3 separate regions of the Homo sapiens genome follow, and regions 2 and 3 are each linked to region 1. The links come from fine-mapping of genetic effects on gene expression. A gene starts in region 1. Each other region holds a variant in brackets. All regions are shown on one strand. Distances are from middle to middle.

Region 1 (8,182 bases):
AGGTCAGGCTCCCCTGGGATGCTAATATTTTTATTCTTGATTTCTATCTTTTTTTTTCTGTTTTCTAAGTTTTAGGGTTTTATGTCTTAGCAATACTCAAAGGAGAACAATCATGAGTTTAGAAGTGATCTCCGAGTAGCCACGTGGTGGGGCACCCAGGCCCCGGCCCAGCCCTGTGGCCATACCTTCTCAGTCCTTTTCCCTGGAAGCTCCAGGAGCCTCAAAATAAGCTCCTTGTCCACCTGAGGAGATGGAGCTAGAGAGACCAGTCATCCTCAGACCTCAGACCTTAGAACCTGGGATGCCTGGGCATGGTGGCTCACGCCTGTAATCCCAGCACTTTGGGAGGCCGAGGCGGGCGGATTATGAGGTCAAGAGATCGAGACTATCCTGGCCAACATGGTGAAACCTTGTCTCTACTAAAAATACAAAAATTAGCCAGGCGTGGAGGCGCGTGCCTGTCATCGCAGCTACTCAGGAGGCTAAGGCAGAAGAATAGCTTGAACCTGGGAGGCGGAGGTTGCAGTGAGCTGAGATCGCGCCATTGCACTCCAGCCTGGCAACAAAGCAAGACTCCGTCTCAAAAAAAAAAAGAACCTGGGACTGGCTAATGCATGGCCTGAAGAGATATGACTGGTGTTTCCACCTAGTCAATGACCAGAAACTCACAGCCCCCTCTACAGAGATTTGGGGTGGGGACGGCAGGGCAGCACATAGCCACTGTCTCCAGGAGGTGGGGTGGGAAGCAAAGCTCCTGCTCTCAGGCAGCTCTCAGTGCTCCAAGGAACATACACAAATGAGCCCTGGGCTGGGGGTCAATGCCTGGGCTCCCGTCCTGTTTCTGCCACCAAAGTGCTGGGTGACAGTGAACCAGTTATCACTCATCTCTGTTTCCTCCTCTGTAAAATGGGTAGTCTGGGCTAGATGCCCTGCCAGGCCCTGCCTATGTTAACATCCTCTACCCATTTCTAGAACAAATCAGCAGGATGAGACATGAGTGGAGAAATCAGCAGAGGAGTGGAAGATTCTGTCTGTCCACCCTGGGCCTGCACATAGCACCTGGTCTCCAGGACCCAGGCACTGACCTCCATGGCTGCTAGAGGCTCACGTCAGTCAGCAAGGATTCTGGGCACGCCCTGCCTCTCCTGACACCCAGAAGGTCACCGCTTCAGAGCTGACTCTACCCCAGCCCCACTAACCACAGAACAGAGCTGGCGTGGGAGTTAAGACATCTCTACCAGACAGAGCACTGCAGGGGCAGGAAGTGGGGGAGCCTCTCTTGACCATCATTGGCACGAGGCTGGCAGGCTGGGCACCAAACCCAGATGCAGACATCTCCGCCTCATTCTCTGGTCACCGGCTTGCTGGCTCCCCAGGGACACACACTGCCTACTGTCCCTCAGGTCCCCTGGTCTCTGCAGCCCCTGAGGGCCTGGCACTTGGTGGGAACACAATACTATAATAGTTAAGCTGAGGCCGAAATTCCACCCCTTCCAGTAGAAAGCGTGCTCCAGGACCAGCAGAATGCGTGCTTTAGGACCAGGAGACCCTACGTCACAGTGGCCGGCATGACTGTCCCCATTTGCATCCCCACACCACACCTTCAGTGGGGAGACCACCATTCTCCACTTCATAGAACTCCCCAGGCACCCCGAGCTCCCGGAGGCAGGAAATATGACAACTGCGTCTTCCCTCTGTGCAGCCCTTCACGTATCCTAATGCGCTTTCCCCCACATCTCCTGCAATCCTGACAACAACCGTGTCATGCAGGCAGAGCGGACGTTATCCCCATTTGACAAAGGGGCACTGAGTCCACACAGCTAGTCAGTGCTGGGGAGAGATGGGAATCAAGGAGCCCTCTTCCCAAGGGAGGTCCTCCTTGCCAGGGTCACTGACAGGGAATGGCCAGGACAATGCTGCCTCAAGACCAGCCCTGGGTGGGCCTTCCTGTCACACACTTAGACTGGGCACAGGTGAAGAGTGGCCCTGAGGCCCAATGCCCTGACATCCTCCTTTCCCTGGGGCCAAGCACAGGCAGACTCCGGGTAATGGCACAGGGGTGAAAAGGCAGGGACTAGGGAGAGAGGTGAGAGCCCCGGAGGCCCCCAGGACACATTTTGACTCAAAGGCAAAGCAAACAGCAACTCCAACAGGTCCCAAGTTGGTGAGAGCTGCAGGAGAGGACGCTGTGGGGGGACAGTGGGCAGGACTCACCTCCCGCAGCAGCTGCATCCCCTTGAGCTCCTCCTGCTGCTGCTGGGCCACGGTGACCCCCAGGACCAACGTGTGCACCACACAGGAGACCACGGAGATGATCACGATGGGGCTGAGGCTGAGGGGCAGCGTGATGAAGAAGGAGAAGACAAAGAAGACCTGCCAGCCCACCGTGTCACTAGCCGCGTGGGCACGCGCGAAGTTCAGGCCCAGGTAGGAGAAGATCTGGGCGGTTATGAGCAGCCACAGCACGTAGGGCAGCACTCTGCGGGTGACCCGGTCCGGGAGCAGCCCCTTTTTGCAGAGCACGAAGAGGATGATGTCCAACACCAGTCCAATTCCAGCCACGGCGAGGGAAGCCAGCTTGTCGCTGGAGAAGACCACAGCACACATGACCACCACGTAGCAGTCAAAGAGGGCTGCAAAGACCACCAGCACCAGCAGGGTCTCGTGGCGCTGCCTTTTGAAGTAGGTCTGGTAGAGGTTCTCCAAGGACTCCGGCACGAAAGTCAGCCGCATGAAGCGAGGCAGGCACAGGCAGGAGCCCGAGTTCCGGACCGAGATTTCATGGGTCCGGCCCACCCCGCGGTCAGGGTCGGAGGGCAGGCTGACGGAGTACTCGGCTGAGTACTCGGCCGAGTATTCGGGCTCGGAGAAGCCCTGGTTCCTCGGCATACTGGCTGGTGTCTGCTACTGGCCCTAGAGAAGTGGACTGGGAACGGAGGAAGAGCTCTGGACTGGGCCTCCTCTCAGGGCTCTCTGAGACCGGGGGAGGGCTGAGGGCCTCTTCTTGTCTGGGGCGGAGGGGAGGCCACCTCCAGCAGGAACGCAGAGCGGGTTTCCAGAGCACAGGTAGCACTGATCAGCTAGAACTGAAAAGGGCATTGCTGAGTAGAAGCACCTCTTCCCTCCTACCTTGCGGTTTCCCCATGACCCGCCCTAACCCTCATAAAAGGATCTCTGCTGCAAGAGCCTCCCAACCCAGGGCCTTCCCTGCCACCCCCGGCTCACACCACCGCCCACCGCAGGCACACTTAGTCCTGTCCACGCCAGACACTCAATTTCCTGTCCCTGGCTTGTGGAAGGGCCTAGCCGCCTTTCCATCCCTGGTAACCGGTTTCTCTCTGTCATCTCTTCTTTCTCAGTCCCCGACTTCCTCACCTAAATTCCCTCCAGGCCCAGTCCTTAGAAGCTGTAAATAAAATGTGCCGGAAAGAAATCAGGACCATCGTGGGGGATTCCTGAGCCTTCCTTCTGTTTACTTCCTTTTTCCACCAAACCCTTGGAGGCTCGGGCTCCGATCCGGCCCCCTTCCCACGCTCGGGGCGCTGTCTTCCCCCCCGGAAGCCTGGCCCTGCCCCTGCGTTTACCTGTGCGGGAACTCGGCCACCGCGTGCTCCGGGACGGTCCCCGCGCGGGCTGGGGCGGGAGAGCTCGGCGCGCCCGAGGGCTGCTCCCCGCAGAGCCGCGCCGCCCCGGCAGCGCCTCGGGGCCCGGCCGGAGCGCGATCTCCCGCCGTCAGGCCCGGGATCCGACCGGGAGAGGCGCAGGGCTGCCCCTCAGCATCCGCGGGCGCCCGGCCGCAGGGGGAAGGAGGAGGCGGCGACGAGGGCTGGGAGATCCGTGGGCGCCGGCCCAGCGCGCCCGCCCTGGGGCTGAGGCTCAGGGGCAGGGGCCGTGCGGGGGCCGGCAGGCGCGGGCGGCGGCGAGCGCGGCTCTCCGGACCCCTCCCCTGCACCCGCGGCGGCGGCGGCTGCTAGGGGCGCGCGCGGGGCCCTCCCCGGCGGGAGCGCGGGCCGAGCCCGGGGAAGCCCGCCAGCATCCTCTCGCCCGCCCGCGCCGAGCCGAGCCAGCCGAGTCCGGGCTCGGCGTGCTGCACAGCTATTCCCCGCGCGGCGCCGGCGGCTCCGGGGCCACGCGCGCTCCAGGCCCCGGGAGGCGGGAGGCGGGAGGCGGGAGGCGGGCGGGGCGGCCCCTCCCTCGCCCCAGTCTCCGCCCTCTCGGCGGCGCGTTCCGGAGTGGGGCGGCGAGGGAGGCGCCGGGCGGCGGTCCCAGGACCCGCGCGGGCGAGAGGTGGAGGGGCCCGGGCGGCCCCCGATCCGGCGCGGGCGGCGGGCTGGGGCGATGGCTGCGTGGAAGCGCGGGCGCGGGCGCGGGCGTGGGCGGTGGGCGGTGGGCGGCAGGGCTGGGGCGAATCCACCCCTTCCAGCGAGGAGGCCCGGTCTAGGAGGATGGAAGCCCGGGACGCGCCCGCCCGCAGGTGAGGCGCGCTCGGGGCACCCCGCCGCCCCCTCCTCCGCCGCGGCTTCCTTCCGGGCCGGCAGAGGCCAGGGCTCAGGTTTGGGGACCGCTCCGCCGCGGGGCACGTGGGGCCTAAGTATCCCCGCCCACCCCGGGAGCCCAGACTCCGGAGCGCCGGGCCTGAGCTTTCCGCAGAGGGGCTCGGCAGCGGAGCCCTGTCCTGCTCCCAGGAGGCGGGTGGCGGTGGCCCGGTGGGCACTACACACGTGGAACTGGAAGAGTTCCTGAGACCCTGCTTCGAAGAGATTTCCCGTGCACATTCTACCCGTTTGAGATGTGTTTGAGTTCACAAACTGTCCCTTAAAGATGCGAATGCTCCTTTGAATAGTTAAACCTATCAGTCTCTTACACCATAGTATAAATTATTTTCCTTGCATTTGACAGAACACCGTGCTAAGATCAACTACAGGCTTTGGGAATTTAAATAAAGGAAGAGGAAAGAGATAGAATGTTTTGGGACAAAAGGGACAAAAGCATGTGTGGGAAGGTAAGTGCTGAGGACAGCCAGCAGCAATAGGGGGTCATCTCCCCTGGGGAGAGCTGAAGGAATGAACAGAGGGGAGAGAAACTTGGCTATCCAGACCCTGGATGGAGCTGCCACCCCATGCCCCTGAGAGTTATCCGCGGGCACCCCTTCCAGAACCTCAGGCATCACCTTGCATCCCTCGGGGAATGGATCCATTAGAGAATCGATCCTGCCACTGCTGTTTCTACCGTTCCCTCACACTCTGTCTGAAAAGGCGCCACCTTCAGCCCATACTTCGCAGGGCTTTGATTCCAAAGGTAGGGGACCTAACATCAGATATAGGAGTTTGGTAATTTAAATAAAGCAAAACTTTGCCCCATTGTTTTATTTTATTTCTATTTTTTATTTTTTCGAGACTGAGTCTCACTCTGTCACCCAGGCTGGAGTGCAGTGTTGTGATCTCAGCTCACTGCAACCTCCACCACCCAGGTTCACGCAATTCTCCTGCCTCAGCCTCCTGAATACCTGGGATTGCAGGCACACACCACCAAGCCCGGGGTAATTTTTGTATTTTTAGTAGATGGGGTTTCACTATGTTGGCTAGGCTGGTCTTGAACTCCTGACCTCAAGTGATCCGCCCACCTCAGCCTCCCAAAGTGCTGGGATTACAGGGATGAGCCACTGCTCTGGGCTGCCCCATTGTTTTAATTTGCTGGAGGTTTTTGGGTTTTGGGGGGGATTTTTTTTGGAGGGAGTTATTTGTGGTTTGTTTTTTGTTTTTGTTTTTTAAAAAGGAAGGCATTTATTTATTTATTTATGAGACAGAGTCTCACTCTGTCGCCCAGGCTGGAGTGCAGTGGCCATCTCAGCTCACTGCAACCTCCGCCTCCTGGGTTCAAGCAGTTCTCCTGCCTCAGCCTCCCAAGTAGCTGGGATTATAGGCACCTGCCACCATGCCTGGCTAAATTTTGTATTTTTAGTAGAGACAGGGTTTCATCATGTTGGCCAGGTTGGTCTCGAACTCCTGACCTCAAGTGATCTGCCTGCCTCAGCCTCCCAAAGTGTTGGGAATACAGGTGTGAGCCATCATGCCTGGACTTTGCTGGAGGTTTAAACATTTATTTTGAATTGTCACATGATGTTAAAGAGGACATGACTTTTATGTTTTACAAAGGGAGATGTAATGTACGGCAAGGCGCAGTGGCTCATGCCTGTAATCCCAGCTCTTTGGGAGGCCGAGGCAGGCAGATCACTTGAGGTCAGGAGTTCGAGACCAGCCTGGCTGACATGGCAAAACCCTGTCTCTACCAAAAAATACAAAAATTAGCCGAGCGTGGTGGCGGGTGCCTGAAGTCCCAGCTGCTCAGGAGACTGAGGTGGGAGAATCGCCTGACCCTAGGAGGCAGAGGTTGCAGTGAGCCAAGATCGTACCACTGCACTCCAGCCTGGGCAACAGAATGAGACCCTATCTCAAAAAAAAGTGGGGGTTGGGGGAGAGATGTGCTAATGTTTTTTAAAAGGCTGATAAATCTTGTGCTTGGTCCTGCTTTGGCACAAGAGACACCATGTTGCACCCTCTGTGGGTCCCTTCCCCTTCCTTGGCATACATGCCAGCCCTGTGATTCTCAGTGTGGCACCCTGTCCGCAAGGCCATGCCCAGCTCCTAAGCTGAGAGGGTTCTCTGCTGGGCCCTCTGCCACCACTCATGCCCCAGCCTCCCACCCCATGAAGGGAGAGAGTTCCACACAGAGGCACCCTCATATAAAAAGAACAACAACAAATTGATCCCTGCCTCTCCAGCCCCTGCCTGCTGGCTTCACTGTCCCACTCCCTGTTCTTCCACCATCCCTATCTCTCCTCTGTGGGCCCCTGTTCAGCGGGCACTGGGGAAACCAGAGGAGCCTTATAGTTCTGCCAAGGCACCATGTTGACTCATGAGGCAGACCCTCAGGTGTACACAGGTTACAGTTGGGGGTGACTTCTGGCTGAGGTGATCAGAGACAGGGCCTTTCAGGGCAAGAGGGAAGGATCTGATGGGCCTGAAAGGCAGGCGTTCCAGGTGGCTGGAGCCTCCCTGCAAAGGCCCAGCCGCAGGAAGAGCACAGCACATTCCCATCCCTGCTCCGCGTTCAGGGTTCTGGCACGGCCTTTCCCTGTGGATATGGGAAACGCAGTGGGACAGCAGTAGGCCCTTGCGAGGACTCCCGGGGAGCCAGAAGCATCTGGGTGAATATTCCTGGGCAAGAGAGCTGCTTGACATCCTGCCACAGAGGAGATCAGGGAAAATGCCGCGAGGGCCTCATCCATCTCACTCACAGTGGCTTCCCCAGTACCTGGCACCTAGTAGATACTCAAAAAATAGTCATTGAATGAATGGAAGTCTCCCTAAGAAGAAATGGTACTTTATAAAGGCACTGGCTGTCCTTGAAGGGACCAGCTGGCCTCATTCCCTGATACTGAGAATGTCCTGGTCCCAGGGCAATGAAAAATATCCACCCTCGAGTGAAAAGGGTGGGATTATGGGGGAGCTGTTTTCACTTTCCAAGCTATACATTTTGTATTGATGTAACCTGGACAACTGGCATGCTTCGCTTTTATAATCAAATGATACAGGAAATCTATACACACACAACTCAGGACCTCAAATGGCTGCATGGGTGACTTGCCCCTGTGGCTTGTCCTAAAAGGAAGACAGAATCATAGACTTAGGTCGAAGCTTGGAGGGCATCCTGACCCCCCCCAACCTCAATCCAGCATCTGCCTGGATGGGATGCCTCTTTGCTGAAGGCAACTTTTTGTTTGTGTGGTTCAAGACTAGAAATCATGGCTGAGAATTAATTGTTACTGGATAAACAAGAATGGTTTGGCCCCCCCGGGGAATGTGGTGGCTCTTGAATCCAGCAAACAATAGATCAGAGCAGAACTCTGTGTCCTGGGGGAAAACAGAAGTGGGAGAGAGAAGATCATTAGCTCCCCTGGTGCTGGGCACCAGGAGAGCCCTGTCTGGGGCCTGAAAGCAGAGCTTGAGACCCGGCCTGCATGCAGGTGGTTCAACTGGGGAAGTGATTCCAGGGAAACAGAGCAGGAGCCTGGGAAGCTCAAAACAGAGAAGGCAGGAAAGCCGGTAAATATGAGGGTTTGTGACGGAGTTGGCCACTGGTGTGGGAGGGGGCCTTGATCCTGCTGGGACCCTCTGATGAG
Region 2 (8,182 bases), 450 kb before region 1:
ATTCATTTTTTGGTTACTTTTGGAGGGAGATGTGGTGTGGCATCTCCAGGGAACTTACTCAAGAAGAGGTAGTTGGGAGAGAAGGTAGAAAATGGGTTATCTCTAGCTGAACTTCAGGTTCAACGTCATCTTTATTTTGATCTACAGAGTCCTAGTAGATGACAATACAGGTCTATACACAAGTGATAAATTGTGCAATCAACCAATTCATCCATTTCACAAATGGGAGTGATTGTTTGCTTTATGAAGTGAACTCTTACTTTATATGAGGAACCATCATGGGATTCCTTCAAACAGCAAATTCTCTTTTCATATATACAAAATGATTTATTTTACAAAGGGTGATTACCTGTGGCTTTCTCTCAGGAAAAGGAAGTGAGGTGTCTTCCATCACAATCATATGCCTTACAGTTTTGATACAATACTCAGTCCAGTTCATTGATTTCCATTCTTAAGTACATAAAAATCTTTTTTCTCCCTGGTTTATTTATAGTTGCATCCCATGGACAAATATCCTTTACTCAACATCTCCTTTTACTTTCTTACATTTATCTTGGCTTTCTTTTCCTTTTTACTGTTTACTCCTACACCATTTCCCCTTCCCATTTTAGTCAAATTTGCTTTTGCTCTTTTTGTGCACTTCATAGGTGGACATCCAAGGACATTGATGAATGAAGCTCCAGTCAAGGGTCTGTAGTGTTAAGGCAGCCACATCCAGGCTCTCATAGCACAGAAATACCAGTAACGCTATTGCTCAGGTGTGCTGCGTATGCTTATTCTACTATGCAAGTGATTATATGCCTCAGTTCCACAGTTGACCTTATATCCCAAATCAGCTCAATAAATTAGAATACTTGGCCCCTTTTTTTTAACTTTTATTTTAGGTTCAGGGGACATGTGCAGGTTTGTTATATAGGTAAACTTGTGTTATGGGGGTTTGTTAAATAGATTATTTTGTCACCCAGGTACTAAGCCTAGTACACAATAGTTATTTTTTCTGATCCTCTCTCTTCCCACCCTCCACCCTCAAGTAGGCACAAGTGTCTGTTGTTTCCCTCTTTATGTCCATGTGTTCTCATCATTTAGCTCCCACTTCTGAGTAAGAACATCTGCTATTTGGTTTCCTGTTCCTGCATTAGTTTGCTAAGGACAATGGCTTCCAGCTCCATCCATGTTCCCACAAAGGACATGATCTTGTTCTTTTTTATGGCTGCATAGTATTCCATGGGACGTTCATACACTGTTAGTGAGAGTGTAGCTCAACTGTTGTGGAAAGCAGTGTGGCAATTCCTCAAAGAGCTAAAAGCAGAACTACCATTCAACCCAGCAATCCCATTACTGGGTATATACCCAAAGGAATACAAATTATTCTACCATAAAGACACATGCATGTGTATGTTCATTACAGCACTATTCACAATAGCAAAGACATGGAATCAACCTAAATGCCCATCAATGACAGATTAGACTTGGCCTCTTATGGAAACATATTTTGTTGTTGTTGTTGTTGTTGTATATAATGGCCCTGACTCATTAACTCCTTAAGTCATTCCCCACGTTAGCTAGTTTTCTGTTATCTTCACTTTGATGTTAAGCCAACATCTTAGCATATTTAAAATTGAATTTCTCATACTCTTAGTCACATTATATTCCCTTTCCAGCTTCCTTACTGATGATGATGATGATGAACATTACTGCCTTTCACTTGTCCAGCACATTGCAGCTTTCCTGCACATCATCTTATTTGTGCCTTACAAAACCACTATGTGGTGAGCAGAGACACTTTACAAATGAGAAGAGTGGGCTAAGAGGGGTTAAGTCACTTGTTCAAAGTGGTAGGGACAGGTCTTCTCACTCTCGGTCCTATGCCTTAAGCTCAGAGGCACTACCCTGCTTCTCAAGCTAATAACCTCATCATTCTTTCTGTTCCTTTTTCTCTTGCACGTCCCATGTCTAACTCATCAAAAACTTATCCTAATTTTTTCTTCTACAATGTCTCATACTTGCCATTATCAAAGCAGTTAAACAACTGCCTTCTTGGTTCAGGCCCTCATCTGCTCATTTGTGAGTCACTGCAAGCATCTCCTGTTTTCCACATTTCTGTTCTTTTCTGCTCTAATTCATCCAAAAGGCATTGGTTAGAATATTGTTTATTTTGCATATTTTCTCTCTTTCATATCTTCTTCCCTTTTTTTGGAATGAAGGGTCCACATAGCAGTTGTTGGGACAGCTAGTAATTACCTTAGTAATTCCCATGCCCCACTTGAATAGCAAATATCTGTGGATAATTGGAAAAATAATGTGTGAAGATGCTGCTCTCATGGTATCACTCCCTTGTGGCCCATATCAGTTTTCTATTTCCTGTTCTGGAAAATGCAATCCCTGCAGGCCCTATATCCAAGACTGTCTATTAACTGAATTTGCAGACCCTGCCCTAAGTACCAAGGTGATGTAGTATTTATGCCATCTGTCTCAAATTCAAGGGTGCTTGTAGCCAGGGGACTACCTTCAGGGGAATAAGTGATGTATAGCTATAAATTTTGGTGATGCCAGAAGTAGCCCAAATAATATGAAAAGAAGCAACATGTACTGTGTACCTTTTTGATGCCACCAACAACTCTGGTATTTTACCTACTTTATCTAATTGAATGCCAACATCAACCCTGCAAAGCAGAAAAGCACAGGGGTGGGGTGCAGGGAATCCCAGCTAGGCCGACAAACCTAGGTTCAGCCCAGAGTTCTGACAGATCTATAAATGTCTGGAAGTCTGTTGGGAGGGAATCTATTTGCTTCAAGAATCAAGGAAGTCCAGAGAAAGAGCTCATTCTAAGGACAATGGGGCAAATTTGGGTGAAAGTGGGAGGGATGTCATGAATATTGTAAGCTGCTTGTCGCTAACATTATATGCTGTCTCTGCTCTGGGGATTTCTGCCTTAGTCTAGTGAGATTGAATAAAAGAATAGAAGCAAACAAACAAAGCCACTGCAATTGAAAGCTATTAAGGCAAGATAGTATGACCTGGAGCACCCTTGCTGGGCAGCGTACGTGGCAGAGCCATGGGGCTCTGGAAGGAACCGAGAGCACGTAGTGATCTGGGAGCATGAAGGCATTGGGAACCTGTAGCCTCAGCCCAAGCCTTGACCATCTGGCCACTCCAGGGTGCCAGAGGCAGAAAACAGGGAAATGGAGACGCTATTGGCTGCTTGGACAAATATAGTGCTTTAAGAATACATTTTAAAAAAGAAGAAGAGGCCAGGTGTGGTGGCTCATGCCTGTAATCCCAGCACTTTGGGAGGCCGAGGCGGGTGGATCATGAGGTCAGGAGATCGAGAACCATCCTGGCTAACACGGTGAAACCCCATCTCTACTAAAAATACAAAAAAAATTAGCCGGGTGTGGTGGCGGGCGCCTGTAGTCCCAGCTACTCAGGAGGCTGAGGCAGGAGAATGGCATGAACCCAGGAGGCGGAGCTTGCAGTGAGCCGAGATCGCGCCACTGCACTCCAGCCTGGGCGACAGAGCGAGACTCCTTCTCAAAATAATGATAATAATAATAATAAAATTTAAAAATATATATATATGAGAGAACCACTCTCTCCATGTTACATCCCCTTCCTCACTCTCAGAGTAATTTGGGAGGAAATCAGAGACCTATTTCAGAAATATTAGTGAGGAAGCAGGACCAGGGAAATGATAACTATTAAAAAAATTTTTTTTTTAAATAATAGAGACAGGTTCTTGTTATGTTGCCCAGCCTGGTCTTGAACTTCTGGACTCAAGCAATCCTCCTGCCTCAGCCTCCCAAGTAGCTGGGACTACAGATGCAGGCCACCACGCCCAGTTAATTTTTAAATTTTCTGTGGTGATGGGGGTCTCATTATGATGCCCAGGCTGGTCTTGAACTCCTGGGCTCAAGCAATCCTTCTGCCTCAGTCTGCAAAATTCTGAGATTACAGGCATGAACCACTGAGCCCAGCCACTATTATTATTTTTGTCGGCATAATTTCAGCTACTACCTATTCTCACATCTGGCTAGTATGGCCTGGGAAGCAGATCACAAGTATATTTTCATCTCCGTTATACATGACAAATTGAGCCTTGAGAAATTTAAGTAACTTGTCTAAATTAATACAATTACGAAGTGGCAGAGCTCGGGTTAGGATTCTGGTCTTTTTTATTTCAATGCCCATGTTCTTCCCACTACATTATTTATTCAACAAACATTTATCGAATGCCCACTATGAGTCACTCACAAGAGGCAATAAGGAACAAAAAAGCCCCTGCCCACATGAACCTTACATCCAGTGGCAGAGACAGCTGTTCACCAAAATTTGTAGGCTCCTCTTCTTCCTGCACTCATAGCTAGACTACATTTCCCAGCTTCCCTTGCAGTTAGGTCTCTCGCCAGTCGAACATGAGTGGAAATGAGTGGCACTTCTATGCCTGGCCCGTAAGAACCTCCCTCCCATGTTTCTGTATACTGAAAGGACTAGTGCAACCTTGGAAGTCAACTG[T/TG]GAAAATGGCAGAGCTGCCTCCACTGATGAGGAACACGTGACTTGGCCTGTTATATCATTAATAACTCAATTTATATTGTGGTTGAGACATAAATTTAGGAGAGTTTTTTTTTTTTTTTTGAGACGGAGTTTCGCTCTTGTTGCCCAGGCTGGAGTGCGATGGTGTGATCTTGGCGCACTGCAACCTCTGCCTCCCAGGTTCAAGGGATTCTCCCGCCTCAGCCTCCCTAGTAGCTGGGTTTACAGGCACGCTCCACCACGCCCAGCTAATTTTGTATTTTTAGTAGTGACGGGGTTTCTCCATGTTGGTCAGGCTGGTCTCAAACTCCAGACCTCAGGTGATCTGCCCGCCTCAGCCTCCCAAATTGCTGGGATTACAGGCATGAGCCACTGCGCCTGGCCAGGAGTTTATTTTTTATAGCATTAGGTACATCTTAATGAAAACATACTCCTAAAATAGATCAGTATACCAAAAAGACACATGTGCTTGTATGTACATTGCCACATTTCATACATAGTAAAGGCATGGGATCAACCTAGGGGCCCATCAATGGTGGGTTGGATAAAAAAAATATATATGGTAGAGATACATGATGGAATACTATGCAGCCATAAAAAAGAATGAGATCATGTCCTTTGCAGCAGCATAGATGGAGCTGGTGGCCATAATCTAAGCAAATTAATGCAAGAACAGAAAACCAAATACTGCATGTTCTCACTTACAAGTGGGAGCTAAACATTGAGCTCCCACAGACATAAACATGGGAGCAATAGACACTGCAGGCTACTAAAGGGGGAGGGGAGGCGGTGGGGCATGGATTGAAAAACTACCCATTGGGTACTATGCTCCTATCTGGGTTCCATATACCCACGTAACAAACCTGTACATGTACCCCCTCGTATCTAAAATAAAAGCTGAAATAAAAAAAATACTCCTACATGAATACCTGCCTAGAGTGATTTTCATTTTACCAGAAGAATTATAGATAAAGTTTCTTCCTTTTTAAACTAAACTACTCCCTTGAAAATCTAGTGGTGTTGGATGTCAAACAATCATCTGCTGACCCAAAGGGGCTCCTGCCAGCTGCATGGGCACCATGAAGGACTCATGTGAGAAGGCCCGCCTTGATCCAGCATGGCGTATGTGACTGAGGGGGTAATTCCATCTATGTCTGGTTTTGTCTTAACCATCCCACTTTGCAAAAACACTTGATGCCACACTCTGCAACTTGGCCTCTAATCGATTATAATAAAGGTGACATTTAACCTCTCTCTGCCACTCTTTTGCATTATTTTTCCATTTGTTCAGAACTCAGGTTGGGAAGATGGTTGTTACTTATTGGGCCCCCACAGAGACCTCAAAAAGTTATCATAATTTTTGGATAAATCAGTAGTCAAGGATTGTATTATAATTGTGTAAATAATTGTCACTGTTGAACCAAGTAGTATATTGTGATTATGTCTTGTTTCTAGTTTGATTTTTTTCTTGAAGTTAATGAATGCCATGTTTTTTGTTCTTAATTTATTTTTAGTTTTGTATGGACCTATACTATTTTTCCAACTACTATAATTGCTCTGTCTAAAATTTTTCAAGCAGTACACTAAGAGCACTAAGCCTAAAGGAAAAGCCAGGCAGGGTGTGGTGGCTCACACCTGTAATCACAGAACATTGGGAGGCTTAGGTGGGAGGATTGTTTGAGCCCAGCCTGGGCAACATAGTGAGTAGTGAGATCCCCATCTCTACAAAAAAATTCTAAAATTAGCTGGATGTGGTGGTGCATGACTATAGTCCCAGCTACTTGGAAGGCTGAAGCAGGAGGATAGCTTGAGCCAAGATGTTCAAGGCTGCAGGGAGCTATGATTATGTCACTGTATTATGTCACTGTACTCCAGCCTGGGCAACAGAGAAAGGCCATGCCAAAAAAAAAAAAAAAAAAGAAGAAGAAGAAAAGAAAAGCCAACAAAACTAAAAAACATTAATTTTAAGAACTTAAGATCATCAAATGATAAGATTAAGAGAGTAAAAAGGAAAACCACATAATGAGAGAAGACATATGTAATATATATATCCCAAGAAGGATTTTTGTCCAGAATATATAAAGAACCCCTACAGATCAATAAGAAAAAGAGACAATACAATCAGAAGGTGGGCAAAAGATTTTGACGGGCACCTCAAAAAAGAGCATTTCAAATGGCCCTTAAACATATGAAAAGATACTCCACTTCATGAGTCATCTGAGGAATCTAAATTAACATCACAATAAGATATTGCACACCTACCAGACTGGTTAAAATAAAGAATTGTCAAGGATGTGGAACAACTGGAATTTGTACGCACTGCTATTAAAAACATAAATCTGGGCCGGGCTCGGTGGCTCATGCCTGGTAATCCCAGCACTTTAGGAGGCTGAGGTGGGCAGATCACAAGGTCATGAGTTCAAGACCAGCCTGGCCAATATGGTGAAACCCCGTCTCTACTAAAAATACAAAAATTAGCTGGGCGTGGTGGCAGATGCTTGTAGTCTCAGCTACTCAGGAGGCTGAGGCAGGAGAATCGCTTGAACCCAGGAGGCCGAGATCGTGCCACTGCACTCCAGCACTTTGGGAGGCTGAGGCGGGTGGATCAGTTGAGGTCAGGAGTTCAAGACCAGCCTGGCCAACATGGCGAAACCCTGTCTCTACTAAAAATACAAAAAAAAAAAAAAAAAAAAGGAAAAAGAAAAATTAGCTGAGTGTGGTAGCTCGCACCTGTAGTCCCACCTACTCAGGCGGTTGAGGCAGGAGAATCGCTTGAACCCAGGAGACAGAGGTTGCAGTGAGCCGAGATCGTGCCACTGCACTCTAGCCTGGGCGACAGAGCGTGACTCTGTCTCAAAAATAATAATAATAATAAAATAAAAATAAATAAATAAAAACACAAACCTGTACAACCACTTTGAATAACTGTTAGTACTACCTATGAATGCTGAACCTATATAACACATACTCTTTGAACTAGCAGTTCCACTCCTTGATATATACCCAGGCTTGATATATATCCAGCAGAAATGAGCGGATATATTCACAAAAAAACATGTATGAGAATGTTCATAGCAGCACTATTAGTAATAGTCAAAAACAGGAAAGAATGTTCATTAACAGTGGAATGGATAAGCAGCACCGTACTCATAAAACAAAATACCACACAGCAAAGAGAAAAAACAAATTACTTGTAGCATCATGGGTGAATCTCATAAAACGTAATGTTGAATGAAAGAAACCAGGCACAAAAGAGCACAAAATATACAATTCAACTTATATAAAGCCCCAAACAAGGCAAAACTTACTGATGGAGATAGAAGTTAGTTTAGCAGTTACCTTTGTTGGGGGAAGTGGGGGCATCAGGGGATGTTCTGGGTTGCTGGTCAGATTTTATTTCTCAATCTGGGTTCTGATTACACATATTATTCACTTTGTGACAATTCTTTGAGCTCGGCACTTATGATCTGTGTATTTTTCTATATGTATTCTAAATTCTATACTATTTTATGCTGTAATCAGAAAAATTTAAATCACCAGATCATGCAGACATATTGAAAAAATATTGAAAACTTCTAGGAAATAAGACCCGTGTAGATAAGCTCCAAGTCCACGAATTCATCTTTATCTGTAGGATTTGGTCTCTGGAAT
Region 3 (8,182 bases), 52 kb before region 1:
CCCAGCACTTTGGGAGGCCAAGGCAGGCGGATCACCAGAGGTCAGGAGTTCGAGACTAGCCTGTCTAACATGGTGAAACCCCGTCTCTACTAAAAATACAAGAAAAATTAGCTGGGAGTGGTGGTGGGCACCTGTAATCCCAGCTACTCGGGACGCTGAAGCAGGAGAATAGCTTGAACCCGGAGGCGGAAGCTGCAGTGAGCTGAGATCGCACCACTGCATTCCAACCTGGGCGACAGAGCAAGACTCTGTCTCAAAAAAACAAAACAAAACAAAAAAAGCACATTCCAGATTCCTCAAAAAATTAAACACAGAACTACCATATGACCTGGCAATTCCACTTTTGGGTATATATCCAAAAGAACTGAAAACAGGGACTCAAACAGATATCTGTACACCCGTGTTCACAGCAGCACCATTCCCAATAGCAAAGCCGCAGAAAACACCCAAATGTCCAAATGAACAAACAAAACGTGGTGTATACATGCAAGGAGATATCAGCCTTAACGGGAAAGAAATGCTGATCTGCCCGACGACACAGAAGAACCTTGAAGACATCATGCTAAGTGAAATAAGCCAGTCAAAAAGGGACAAATACATGATTCCGCTTATATAAAGGACCTAGTAGAGGCAAATTCAGAGACACAGTAGAACAGTGGTTACCAGAGTCTGGGAGAATGGGCAGTTATTGTTTAATGGGCACAGAGTTTCTCTTTGGGATGATGAAAAAGTTCTGGAAACGGACAGTGGTGATGGCTGCACGACATTGTGAATGCACTTAATGCCACTGAATTGTATACTTAATGATTAAAATGGTAAATTTTATACTATGTATATTTTACAGTAGCTATATATATAATTTTTAAAATGCAAATGTCCTTTGATCCAGCAATTCCACTTCTAGGTTTTTATTCTTCCACAGATACACTTGCACATATATACTATGATATAATAAATACCGCTACAAGGATATTTATTACAGCAATGTTTACAGTAGCAAAAGATTGGAAATAACCTAGAAATCTATGGAGAGCGCAACAAAATAAATTGTTACTTTTGTATAATGACTGAACACAGTCATTAAGAAGGTTGTGGCAATGCAATACAGACTTAGAATGCTCTCTAAGATAGTAGGTGAAAAGATCTAGTGCCTGTAATCCCAGCATTTTGGGAGGCCGAGGCGGGCAGATCACTTTAGGTAAGGAGTTCAAGACCAGCCTGGCCAACGTGGTGAAACCCCATCTCTACTAAAAATACACAAATTAGGCAGGCGTGGTGGTGCATGCCTATAGTCCCAGCTACTTGGGAGGCTGAGGTAGGAGAATCGCTTAAACCCAGGAGGCGGAAGTTGTGAGTCGAAATTGTACCACTGCACTCTAGCCTCAGCAACAGAGTGAGACTCTGTCTCAAAAAAAGAAAAATAGATTTAGTACAAAAGAGTGAATAGGCTATCATCTGTGTGTGTGTGTGTGTGTGTGTGTGTGTGTGTGTGTGTGTGTGTGAAAATTCTATAAACCTCTGAAAGGGTACATTAAAAAGATAATAGTGACTGGTGATTCATGGATGGGGGCTGGATGGCTAGGGGAAATGAAGGTGGGATGACTTACTTTTCCTAGTATACCCTTTTTCATACTTTTACGATTTTATACATGTATACGTTTGCTATAGAGGATCTTATAGCAGGCCAACCCTCCAGCCAAGAACAACTATAAAAGCTGGATAAAATACATAAAAAGAACCTAGCTCTTTAAAGGCAATGGAAACAACCAAAGCAGCCAGGATTTGAGGGGCCAAGATCTCAGGGGAAGGGAAACACATTTAAGTGAGCCCAATGCACTCCACCACTTTTCCCTTGCGACCAGGGTCGAGAGGCTGGAGAGAGAGCAATGATGAGGGCTTTCAAGGGGCTGGAGAAACAAGGACTGTGAGCAAGGATTCCAAGGCAGAGAGAGTAGAGGGGCTAAGACCCCGGGGAAAGAGAACCATACAACAGTGAGTCTGACTTTCTGTACACTATTACCCTTTAGTATTTGCATGGGGCAAGAGACCAAGAATCCAAGCAGAAAGTGAGACTAAGAGGCTAAGCTTTCAGTAGCCTCACATTGCTGAGGAGTTCAAGATACCATGAGAAAAGCACCAGCCTTTCAGGTAAGACCCCTGAGAAGCTATTTCCTATCTGCCCCTGCTCTAACCATCTGCCACAAGAAAAGTAAATCTTCCCTGGAGAGACACAACATTATTCAGAAGCACTACTATTTCCCATCCACAATATCTAGTATTTAATTTTTAAAAATGCCAGGTGGCTAAAGTGGGAGGATTGCTTGAGGCCAGGAGTTTGAGACCAGTTTGGGCAACACAGTGAGACTCCATCTCTACAAAAAACCATTTTTTTAATTAGCTGGGCATGGTGGCACACGCCTGCAGTCCTAGCTACTCAAAAGGCTGGGGTGGGAGTTTTGCTTGAGCCCAGGAACTCGAAGATGCATAAGCCACTGCACTCCAGCCTGAGTGACAAAGCAAGACCCTGTCTCAAAAAAAAAAAAAAAAAAAAAGAAAAAAAAAAAGGCCAAGATGCCAGGTTTCAACAACAAAAAAATGCATACCCATTGGTATTATTATGGTTGTCAGTCAGGAACTTTAAAATAAATGTTTAATATATTCTAAAAAATAGATGACAAAATAGGAATACATCGTTAGGGACCTAAGTCCAGTTTTTAAAATCAAATGGAAATTCTAGGACAGAAAAATATATAATTGAAATTGATGACTCAATAAAAGAGCTCAACCACTGATCTGACAAACCAGAGGAAGACAGGATTAGTAAACTGTAGATTAGGCCCATCAAAACATTGTCTGAAGTGCAAAAAGAAAAAAAGATTCAGAAAAAGAAGAGAGATACTTCTGGAACATGGTAAAAATGTCTAACAAGGATATTGAGTCCTAGAGGAAAGGAGCGAATGGGAAGAAGCAATAAAAAGATACTGGCTGAAAATGTTCAAAACTGACGAGAGATGTCAAACCAACATTCAAGAAGCTCTTTGAATACCAAGCAGAGCAACTGCAAAGAAAACTCCCAGGCGCAGCATCGTAAAACTGCTGAGAACCAAAAACAAAGAGCATTGGGAAAGCAACCACAGGAAAAAGTATGCATTAATGTAACGGGAGCAACAGTCTATCTGACAACTGGCATTTCAACAGGAATGAAGGAAGCGGGAAGGATAGTGAAATGCTTTTAAAGGGCTAGAAGTAAAAAATGGCAGCCTAGAATTATCTGCAAAAAGTCTTGGCATGATTTGAATGTGTCTGTTCAAAATTCAGGTGCTGCCAATGTAATACTATTAAGAGGTGGGGCCTTTAAGAGGGGATCAGGCCATGAGGGTTAAGGCTCTTTTAAAAGGGGCATCACATAACATTCAGCTAGCCCACCCTTCTGCCATGTATGGACACCAGAGCAAATGCTGGTGCCTTGATCTTGGACTTCCCGGCCTCTAGAACTGTAAGTAGTAAATTTCTGTTCTTTATAAATTACCCAGTTTCAGGTATTCTGTTGTAGCAGCACAAAACGGATGAAGACAGGTATCTTTCGAAAATGAAAGCAAAATAAGCACACTCCTAGGTAATCAGAAATGGAGAGAATTTGGTACCAAGAGATCAGCATAAAAGGTAATACTAAAGGGAATTCTTCAAGAAAATGAAGCAAAGAAATGGAGAAAGGAAGAGCAATTGAGAGGGCAAAACTGTGGGTAAATATAAGTAAAGAATATTAATAAGAATATTACATAAAATAATCACAATAAGGACTTGTGGGGTTTAAAATATGTTGAACTAAAACACATTATACTAATAAGCAGAAAGTGGGGGGCAGAGGCTTGTGAAATGAAGTTAAAAGGTTGTGAGGTCCTTGCATCATGACTAAAGAGGTAAGTACTAATTTGGGGCAGATGCAAATATGACATAGTTGACATTATTTCATTTTTTAAAGATTTTGACAGATTTGGCAGAATATACATTATTCTCAAGTGCATCAAAACTGACCACATGCTAGGCCAAAAATCAAGTTCCAAGAAATTTCAAAGACTTGAAATTAGAGTATGTTCTCTGACCAGAATAAAGATAAAAAACAACATAATTGTAAACAAATCCTCAAATGTTTAGAACTTAGTGCACTTCTACGTCGCCCATGGATCAAAGGCATTTCAATGAAAATTAGTAAATATTTTAAATTAAACGACACTGAAAATATGGCATATTAAAACTTGTGAGATAAAGCTCAAACAATGTAATGAGTGAGATCTGTAGCATTAAATGCATGTTTTAGGAAAGAAAGGCTGAAAATCGGTCATCTGAAGTTCTATTTTGGCTGGACCTGGGGGCTCACGCCTGTAATCCCAACACTTTGGGAGGCCGAGGTTTCGAGACCAGCCTGACCAACGTGGTGAAACCCTGTCTTTACTACAAATACAAAAAATTAGCCGGGCGTGTTCCCAGCTACTCGGAGGCTGAGGCAAGAGGATACCTTGAACTCAGGAGGTAGAGGTTGCAGTGAGCCTAGACTGCGCCACTGAACTCCAGCCTGGGTAACAGAGCAAGATTCAGTCTCCAAAAAACAACAATAAAGTTCCATTTTAAGAAGGTAAAAAAGGACACAAATTAAGCCCAAAGAAAAAAGAGGCAATGACAAAGTTTAACTTAGAGATAAGAGGCTGGGCGCGGTGGCTCACGCCTGTAATCCCAGCACTTTGGGAGACTGAGGCAGGCAGATCACAAGGTCAGGAGATGGAGACCATCCTGGCTAACATGGTGAAACCCCACCTCTACTAAAAAAAAAAAATACAAAAAAATTAGCCGGGCATGGTGGCAGGCACCTGTAGTCCCAGCTACTCGGGAGGCTGAGGCTGGAGAATGGCGTGAACCCGGGAGGCAGAGCTTGCAGTGAGCCTAGATCGCGCCACTGCACTCCAGCCTA[A/G]GTGACAGAGCCAGACTCCGTCTCAAAATAAATAAATAAATCAGAGATAAGAAATGTACAAAGAAAGCAACAAAGATTAACGGTGGTCTGCTGAACAGGCTAAAACAATAAGCCTTAGCAAGACTGATTAAGAAAAATTTTAAAAAGGCACAAATTATCTTCAGTAATGAAAAAAAGGAACATCATTACCCATTTCAGACAAAAGATAAAAAGAAAATATTAAGAATATTATGCCAAAATTTTGAAAATTTGAATGGACATGTTTCTGGGGGAAAAAAACCTCTCTAAAACCTATATAAAAGGAAATATAAAATCTGAACAACCTTATTATCTATGACGGAAACAGAATCTTCCCCTAAAGAACACTCCAGGCCTATAGGACTTCTTCATTAGGGCCTTTTTTATTTTTATTTTTTTATTTTTAAAGCCAGGATCTCACTTTGTTGCCCAAGCTGGAGTGCAGTGGCACAATCATGGCTCACTGCAGCCTCAACCTCCTGGGCTCAAGCGATCCTCCCACCTCAGCCTCCCAAGTAGCTGGGACTACAGGCATGCACCACCACACTCAGCTAATTTTTTAATTTTTTGTAGAGATGGGGTCTCGCTTTGTTGCTCAGGCTGGTCTTGAACTCCTGGACCCAAGTGATCCTCCTGTCTCAATCTCCCAAAGTGCTGATATTACAGGCATAGCCACCTGCCTGGCCACACCTACAGGCCAGCCACATGCCTGGCTGTGACTTCCAAATTTAAGGAATAACCCAAATTATCTTCAAACTATCAGGGGTTAGAAACTTCTCAAATTATTTAATGAGTTGGGCATAACCGTAATACCAAAACCTGTCAAGCACATGGAAAGGAAGGAAAATGGCAGGCAGGTTTCTCTCTTGAACAGAGACAGAAGACGTAAGGAGAATGTAGGTAAATGGAAACTCACAGGGGGCAGGATTCCATCCTTCCCAATGGTAACAGTGCTTTACCAATCCCAGTGGGATTCACATAGATTCCTTCTTACCCTTAAAACAATCTCTCAGCAGGTCACGGTGGCTCATGCCTGTAACCCCAGCACTTTGGGAAGCCGAGGCGGGTGGATCACCTGAGGTCAGGAGTTTTGAGACCAGCCTGGCCAACATGGTGAAACCCCGTCTCCACTAAAAATATAAAAAAAAAAAAAATTAGCCAGGTGTGGTGGCAGGTGCTTGTAATCCCAGCTACTTGGGAAGCTGAGGCAGGAGAATCGCTTGAACCCGGGAGACGGAGGTTGCAGTGAGCCGAGATTGTGCCACTGCACTCTAGCCTGGGTGACAAGACCAAGACTCCATGTCAAAAAAAAAAAAAAAAAAAGAAAGAAAAAAAAATCTCTCAAAAGTTTTACATATGGGGATACTGAAGTCCAAAGAGGGGCAGCAACGAGCCCAAGGCCACACTCAGGACAGAGCCTGGCTAGACAAATTCATCCCACTTGGAGAATTCTAGGCTCCGGCTGTGTGCCCAGCTAGGCCTGAGGATGCACCTTACCCCTCAACTCCCCCCACACCTCTGCACCTCCCTTCCACCTAACCTGGACCTCTCCATCCTGGGGCCAATGTCTGCTCTGCCACTGCAGCGTGGGCAGGCAATGCAGAGAAGCACCACTGTGGCCCGGGCAGGCTGCTAGCACCCTCAGGAGCCCTGGGGCACCCAGGGATGACCCTCTCTGCTGGTGCCCAGGCTCCCTGCACTGACCCTGCCCAGAGGAAGCATATGGCCCTGGGTGTTAGAAAGCAGGCCTCATGGCCCCGTGCACTCGGCCTACCTCTAAAAAAGCTCTATGGGTTACAAAGCACTTCTGGGTTTCTCATTTGACCCTCAAGAAACCTACAAGACAAATGTCAATACCTCCACTTTGCAGATGAGGAAAAGTGAGGCTCTGTAGGGTGGATAACTTATCTAAATTATCTACACGAGAACAGCCCCAGGGTGAAACACAGGGCCTTCCTCATCACACCAGGGGGCCTCCACAAGACGGTTCAGTGTGAGTTAAGATGTCCTAGATTGTACAATATGAGACAGACAAGATCAATGCAGACAGACATGCTGAAAACTGCGCAAATGTTATATAAAAAGAATGCTCGCCTAGCTAGGCGGTGACACATGCATTTTTTTTTTTTAAGTGCAGAGAACCCAGAGGGATGCCTCCACAGTGCGAGATCAGATACAAACAAGAAATGAGACAGTATTAAAAAAAAACAGAGTTGAAGAATGCCTTTCAAGGGGCTTTACAAGCCAGGAAAGGAGGATTCTTTAAATATACACAGGCCACAGCAGCTCCTCAATAACCACAGGTCACAGGGCCCAGGGGAAGGGGCGAATACGATGGGCTACTAAGCCTGGACCTTTGTCACAATGGCAGCCAGGGAAAATCCCCTCCTATGGGGGCCTTCTGTAAGGAATGAGATTGGTAAACGGGGAGGAAGAAAACATCCCCAGGACAGTGGAATCGGAGGCCCATCAGCTAAATGACTTAGTGTGTGCCTCGGAACAGCACTGTCTAGAGAATGTGAGTGAGGCCCGACGGTGGGGCTCCTGCAAGCCAAGGGCTCCGGAGTGGCCCCCGAAACCAAGGCCCTGTCCACCCGAGTGGCAGCATCTATGAAAACAGCAATTTCAGTGAATCAGGAGCACACAGAACCTCCTGAACACAGATGACATGGTTCCCAGAGCAGAGAATCATAGTGTCAACCTATTGAGTTTGTTTTTGAAGGGGAAATAACCCTATGGATAACAGGAAATTGGTGGGTGTAATTTCTGGAGACCTTCAAAAAGCATGTGAGATTAATCCAGGCCAAAACTATGTACAAGCCTGAGTGACATGAGAACTGGGAGGATGGTGCGGCCATGGAAGAGACTGGAGGAAAGCCAGGAAACCGAGGCAGGGACAGCGAGGCCTCTCTCCAGATGGAGAATGTAAACAAGGGCATCCCCGGGGAACAGGCTGGTTTTCCTTCTTCAGCAGTGACCTCAGATGGGAAGGTAAGGGAGGGAGGAGCTCCCCTGAGTGGGGGTGTGAGGCTGACACACTTCACCCAGCAGGGCCCTGAGGCCGCAGGATGGGTCAAGGCCCCACCCACGGCATGAGCAGGTGCACAGGGTGGATCTGCGGTTGGACCAGCAAGAGTGGTGGTGGAGGCGTGACGTGAAGGAATGCCCGTGATGCCCCTGACCCTGACCTTGGTCCCG

Evidence for each region. PIP is the estimated chance that this variant, and not a neighbour inherited with it, causes the effect.
Region 2: its variant is fine-mapped to the expression of ADCY3 in whole blood (TOPMed, PIP 0.90).
Region 3: its variant is fine-mapped to the expression of ADCY3 in whole blood (TOPMed, PIP above 0.99).

The regions. Positions count from the first base shown.
Region 1 is chr2:24,916,099-24,924,280 of GRCh38, forward strand. It overlaps ADCY3 (adenylate cyclase 3), which reads right to left and starts at 4,139. Exons shown (of 22, transcript NM_004036.5): 1 at 3,585-4,139; 2 at 2,215-3,086. The coding sequence starts at 2,889. LOC124907742 (a long non-coding RNA gene) reads left to right here and starts at 4,246. Exons shown (of 2, transcript XR_007086246.1): 1 at 4,246-4,474; 2 at 4,900-5,360. RefSeq lists an enhancer at 872-1,121 and silencers at 3,524-4,253, 4,284-4,343, 4,384-4,593, 4,604-4,693.
Region 2 is chr2:24,467,467-24,475,648 of GRCh38, forward strand. No RefSeq gene overlaps it. Among named protein-coding and RNA genes, the nearest start is that of NCOA1, 20 kb to the right of the region's middle. The variant T/TG (reference allele first, on the strand shown) is at 4,514.
Region 3 is chr2:24,864,034-24,872,215 of GRCh38, forward strand. All of the region lies in intron 3 of ADCY3 (adenylate cyclase 3), which reads right to left. Among named protein-coding and RNA genes, the nearest start is that of ADCY3, 52 kb to the right of the region's middle. The variant A/G (reference allele first, on the strand shown) is at 4,967.